Linked DNA regions of Homo sapiens: region 2 is linked to region 1. Evidence: fine-mapped expression QTL. A gene starts in region 1. The other region holds a variant in brackets. All regions are shown on one strand. Distances are between the middles of the regions. Region 1 holds the start of DYRK4 (dual specificity tyrosine phosphorylation regulated kinase 4). Region 2 overlaps DYRK4 (dual specificity tyrosine phosphorylation regulated kinase 4).

Evidence for each region.
Region 2: its variant is fine-mapped to the expression of DYRK4 in cerebellum (GTEx, PIP above 0.99).

The regions. Positions count from the first base shown.
Region 1 is chr12:4,561,029-4,563,946 of GRCh38, forward strand. It overlaps DYRK4 (dual specificity tyrosine phosphorylation regulated kinase 4), which reads left to right and starts at 1,180. Exons shown (of 15, transcript NM_001394779.1): 1 at 1,180-1,255. The coding sequence starts at 1,218. RefSeq lists a silencer at 1,015-1,309.
Region 2 is chr12:4,603,544-4,606,461 of GRCh38, forward strand. DYRK4 (dual specificity tyrosine phosphorylation regulated kinase 4) reads left to right here. Exons shown (of 15, transcript NM_001394779.1): 11 at 1,371-1,543. It also overlaps the pseudogene LOC103568124. Among named protein-coding and RNA genes, the nearest start is that of DYRK4, 43 kb to the left of the region's middle. RefSeq lists an enhancer at 1,278-1,617. The variant T/G (reference allele first, on the strand shown) is at 1,299.

The sequences.
Region 1 (2,918 bases):
TACCCTGGTCGAGTTCATAGCCTACTTGGTGTCTGACTCCCCCTTTCCTGCTGCTTCAACCTTGTCTCTGCCCACGTGCAACTTTGATCCCTGCCCCACTAAACTGGGTGCTGGCACAATGGTACCAAGCTTTTCTATGGCTCTGGCCTTCAGAATAGGACTTGCCTCCTTTACGTAGACAACTACTGCCTGTCCTTGAAGACTCAGATTCAACTCAGCTCTTTCAGAAAGCTTCATTTGAATGTCTTTTCTGCCTGGACCAGACTGTGCACCTCCAGGTCAACCTACTGCCACTCAATTACAAATTTCCCTTTTCATGCTTTCTACAATCTGGTGCAGAGTAAGCACTCAAAAAGTGTTCAGCTGATATATGGATTTTACCCAGAACTTTTGCTATGTACTTACTTTTTTTCTTTTTCTTTTTCTTTTTTTCTTTTTTTTTTTTTTTTTTGAGATGCAGTCTCGTTCTGTCGCCAGGCTGGAGTGCAGTGGCGCGATCTCGGCTCACTGCAACCTCCGCCTCCCGGGTTCCAGCGATTCTCCTGCCTCAGCCTCCCAAGTAGCTGGGACTACAGGCACGCACCACCACGCCCCGCTTATTTTTGTATTTTTAGTAGAGACGGGGTTTCACCATGTTGGCCAGGATGGTCTTGATCTCTTGGCCTCGTGATCCACCCGCCTTGGCCTCTCAAAGTGCTGGGATTACAGAAAAAAATGTCTAAATAGAGACAGGGGCGGGGGGGTCTCACTACTTTGAGCAGTTTGGTCTCGAACTCCAGACCTCAAGTGGTCTGCCTAGGCCTCCCAAAGTGCTGGGATTGCAGGTGTAAAACCACCGCGCCCGGCCAGAACTTCTGTGATGTAATTCTGATAACCACATGCTTCGCTTGAAGAAGGGGAGAGAGTAGGGATAATTTCATGTGTCCGGTCTGGGCAACCAACTTTAAGTTCTTTATGCTGGGATTTTGTTCAATTCTTGCCCTATACTTTAAAGAACTGGGGCAAGAGAATGCGAGTAGGAGGACGAGGAGTATGTTCTTCAGGCTGCTACTCTGCAAGGTGGTTTGGGACCACAGCCTGAGAAAGCCCTTCCAGCTCTGGAGTCATAAAAAGGGCGGGAGCCGTTTCTATAGCGACGGGAGGAGGGCGTGGCCGTCCCTTGCCCTCTGCCGGGCTCTCACAGCCTCCCGCAGCGGCGGGCGGTCAGCGCCGGCCTCATGCAGCTCCTCCCGCCGCCTATCCGCACCGGAACAAAGTAAGGGCCGCGGAGGCTCGTACTTCACGAGCAGTCAGGCGCGAGTACGAGGCAGGCGACGAAGCTTCTGGTCGACGGGGTCGTGGGGGGAGAATGAAAAGCGTGCAGAATGCAAGAGCTGACCGGGGAATGTGGGTCAGAGAGAGGCGGGCTGTGGTGCGCGGACAAGAAAATACAGTTGTAGTTTTTGCAGCAGCTGCATCCCCGGAATCCGACGTCAGTATACTTCCATGTTAAGATGCTGTCGCATCGGCGACTCCAGCTGAGTGCAGGACAGGGAGCGAGGGGTTCTGAGGAACTCAGCAGACCTATCCTGGAACTGTGCTTCCAGCCCTCACTGGGACGCCAGACTTTCTTCCTCCCTTTCTTTCTCTTCTTTACTGCATGTCCTCTTGGTAGTCGTAAGTGGGTCCACGACCACACGCCTCGCGTGGATGAGGCTCTGGCAGGCATTACTCATGTTCCCACCCAGCCCATATGCCCGGGCACCTCTGTGCTCAACCAGGGCCCAGCCCCTGACACAAAAGCGCGCGAAGGTGTGTGTAGATCACACACCCAGAGCTGCCACTCAGGAAATTCCCAATATTAGCAAATCTTTCCTTAAAAAAGAGATGAACAATGCACAATTTGAGGGTTTTTAAAGGCTATTCTGTGACATTTGCTGCATTTGAAATGTCCAGCAGCCCCTCAAAGCTTAGGAAAACCGTGACCCCTCTGACATGTCTTAAGCAACGGACAGCATCACCAATATTAATTCAAGCTTCACTGTCCAGGCTTAAGTGGAGACTCGGCAAAAGCAGGAGGCCATTTAGTGGAAAAGTTCAAACCGTGGAAACAACAAATGAAAATGTCCTTTGTCTTGCTTGAGCGATTTGATCACCTACATGTGGTCGGTATGTAAAACCTAGGAGTTCGAAGAAATTCTTCAAACATGCACTCTACCTTATTGTTTCTGTTACTTAAATCTGTTGTTTCTCTTGTTTGTTTTGGTCCTTATGGAGAAAGCAGAGGTAAATCGGAAGGGACTCTCTAGCAATATGCCAGCCACTCTTCCCTGACTTTGCCCTCTCCAACTCCACATATTGTTGCCTGCAACTTGGCTAGAATGCATAGTCCTCAAGCGTGTGGAGGACCCAGTGCTGGGATTTAGTGGTTTTAGCTGACTCTAAGCCCATCGTGAGTGTGTTGTGATGGCTCCCCAAAGAGCAAATGCTGGTGGAGGCTGCATTCATAGAAATGCAATGACCACATCAAAGAATATGGTCGTGCTGCCTGACTTAGCAATGAGTAGAACATAATCCAGACTCTAGAAACTGTAGCTACTTTGAGATCACAAAGAACTGGAAAATAGGAACAACCACAAGGCAGGCTCTCTCTGTCAGGCCTGGGTGTGCCATCACATGAAGAGAGGTTTGAAAAAACTTCACAGAATGCCTGGAGATGAGGAGATGCAAGGGAGAGAAAGCTTTTTTCTACTCAACTTTTGAACATTCAAGAACTCTTGAGTAGAAAAGAGATAGATTTGTTCCTTGGTACTCTGCAGAGGATAGCAAGGATCAGTGGAGGAAATTTTGCTCAATATAGTTTATTCTTCCAAGAAATATCAAGTACCAACCCTATGTAAATTAACAGTTGAGTGTGAAATGGGTTGCCTAGAAAAACA
Region 2 (2,918 bases), 43 kb after region 1:
TCTCCTCCGCTTTCTAAGCTCTTCACATCGAGGCAAGGGAGACCCTGGCACCTGCCTCCGCAGCAGCCAGGACCACACTGCCATGGCAACAGCATGCCTCTGTGTCCTCCATCTGGGCCTCTCTGGCAGATCAATTTTTGAGGACATAAAACCTTTGTGTCTTTATGTATGAATCCTATAAGAAATTCCAGCTAAAAAGTAATGCTTCCCACAAAGAACTTGTATGTTTTCCCTTCTCAGATGTTGAAAGCTGTGTAACTTTTCAGTTTTCATTTATCTTGGCTGCCAAGATGCTCGGAACTGAATTCGTAATTATTTTATCCTTGGTTTCTAGCAGTCATTTCCCCCTTTGCATATTTTCTGACATCTTTTTTATCTTTATTTTAACTGTGAGGCAGTATCTAATATTGATGCTAGAATTAAACTGCCTACTCTCAAATCCCAGCTCTGTCACTTATAGCTGAGTAACCTTGACATTTTAACCTCTGTATGCCTCAGTTTTCTCTTCTTTAAATTGGAGGCAATAATACTACTTGCTTCACAGAATTAATGTAAGGGTTGAAAGGGCTTATCTATAAAAGTACTTGGAATCGTGCCTGGCACATACTAAACATAATGTAAATACCATTAAATCCATGTTCTAAAATACTCTGTGCATGTGTACTTTGCAAAGTACCACAAACACATTTGGGAAGCAGGCAGGATATAAACATTATTTTTATTAAATCTCTATTTTGTTTTAAATCACAGAATTATGTTCTGACAATAACCAATTTAAACAACAGAAAAGTGGTTACAGAATCCCTGCCCCTCCCCAGGTAACCAGAAACCCCAGTTATGCGGAAATAACTACCGTGTTCCATTTCTTCGACTTCAGTCTGTTCATCCTCACCTGTTGAGAATTTTCTTTCTATACAATAAGTGCACATGCTATATTGAATACAGACTTTGCATGCTCCCTTTCTAACTTGATATGCTCCCTTTCTAACTTGATAACTCTCTTGCCAAGTCACAAGACTCAGAAGCTGTCTACCCCAAATCAATCTGACAGTTTGAAAACTTAGTCTTATATTTGTCTTATGTTTTGTTTGTTTGTTATAAACTTGGCTCACTTAGATTCACTTTCCTACGACAGTGCCCACGTTGGAGTTCGTTATCAATAAAGCAGGGACAGTCACACCTCCTTTATAATCAGGTTGCTGGCGGATTTGATGCTGTGATGGTGTAATGGGAGTTCTAAGTGCTGGCCAGCTGCACTTCCCTTTCACTGCCAGCGGGGGCGCAGTCTAACTGAGAAG[T/G]TGTCCTGGGGGAGAGCGTTCTGGAGGGTAAGAAGTTTGTCCCACGAGGTTTCTCTTACTTTGCCTCCGCAGTATACACGTACATCCAAAGCCGGTTCTACCGATCCCCAGAAGTGATCCTGGGCCACCCCTACGACGTGGCCATTGACATGTGGAGCCTGGGCTGCATCACGGCGGAGTTGTACACGGGCTACCCCCTGTTCCCCGGGGAGAATGAGGTGGAGCAGCTGGCCTGCATCATGGAGGTACGCGGAGGGCTGGCGGTCGGCTCCCACGGAGACCGTGGGCTTGGCCCTCAGACACGGGGCTGCACCAGACTCGCCCAGGACCATGGCCTGCATACCTTGTTGTTGTTGTTGTTGTTGAGTATTCCCTAAAAGGAGTTTTGAAATTGTGTACTCCCTTGTACTTGTCAAGTCGACATCTAACGTTTTATCATAAATTTAAATAGTTGCAGAGGATGTCATTTCCATCATATTGTAAATAGTGACATTTTAAAATAAAATTACACCGCTCTTTCAAAAATATCCAAAAGAATGCAAAACCAGACGGACATGACACCCATTAAAATCTATCTGATAGTATGTGAACAGGTTCTTAAGAGTTGTGCCATGATTTTACTTTGTTCTTTTTTCCCTTTTGTTTCTACTCTTTTTTCTACTTCCTCTATGGAATTTTATTCTAATTTAATATACGTTTATGTTTAGAAACTTCTATCAATCATTATAGCTTTAAAAATTTCCTGATACCGTAAGCCTCATGTGTAAAAATTTCTTTCTGGTAAGTTACCATTAAAATATATCTGGTGTGCAAATTTTGATAATTATTGAAAATAAAATGTGAAATCTTATTGGGCATACAGCTCTTAGAAAAATGAATAGAGCTGGGTTTTTTTTTTTTTTTTTTTTTTTTTTCCAAATTAATGCCTATACCCATAGGTGAATAATGCTTCTTGCTAGAATGCCCGGGCTCGGGATCAATGTGATTCCAATTGCTTGGTGGTGTAGATGTGAACCCAGTGAGGAAGCCTGTTCTAATTAATGTCGTCTAATTCGGTGACTCCTTTTGAGTTCTGTGTAAGAATCAAATGGTGATCTGTCATCTAAAATTATGTTTACCAGCCTGTCAGCTGACAACCCGATTAAAATGTTGAAAACAAAGAATTGGAAATTATTTGACTTCAAAGTATGTGTATTGTTCAGGCATTAGTCATTCATTATGGGAAATGACAGTTTTCTGGGAAAACTATCTCCTAATAGCAAGGCTTGACCAAGACTCATGATATGATTATTAATTATATCTATTATGCTTTCACTTGAAAGCCATCTTGTTTTGGAAATAAATTAGACAAAATAGAAAAATAACTTTAAAAATTTTAAATTTTACATTTTAGGATTTTCCCAGTGAACAAAGATATTTTGTGTGCAAACACCAAGCTAGCTGGCTGGCTGGCTATCTATCTATCTATCTATCTATCTATCTATGTATCTGTATCTATCTATCTTTGCCAAATTTCTATTTTCCAGATTGTCTCAAAGTTACAGAGAAACACATATAGCCTTGAGAATGACTAAACATAGATAATTTCATTTCATGATCGAAACTAATAATAAAATATTA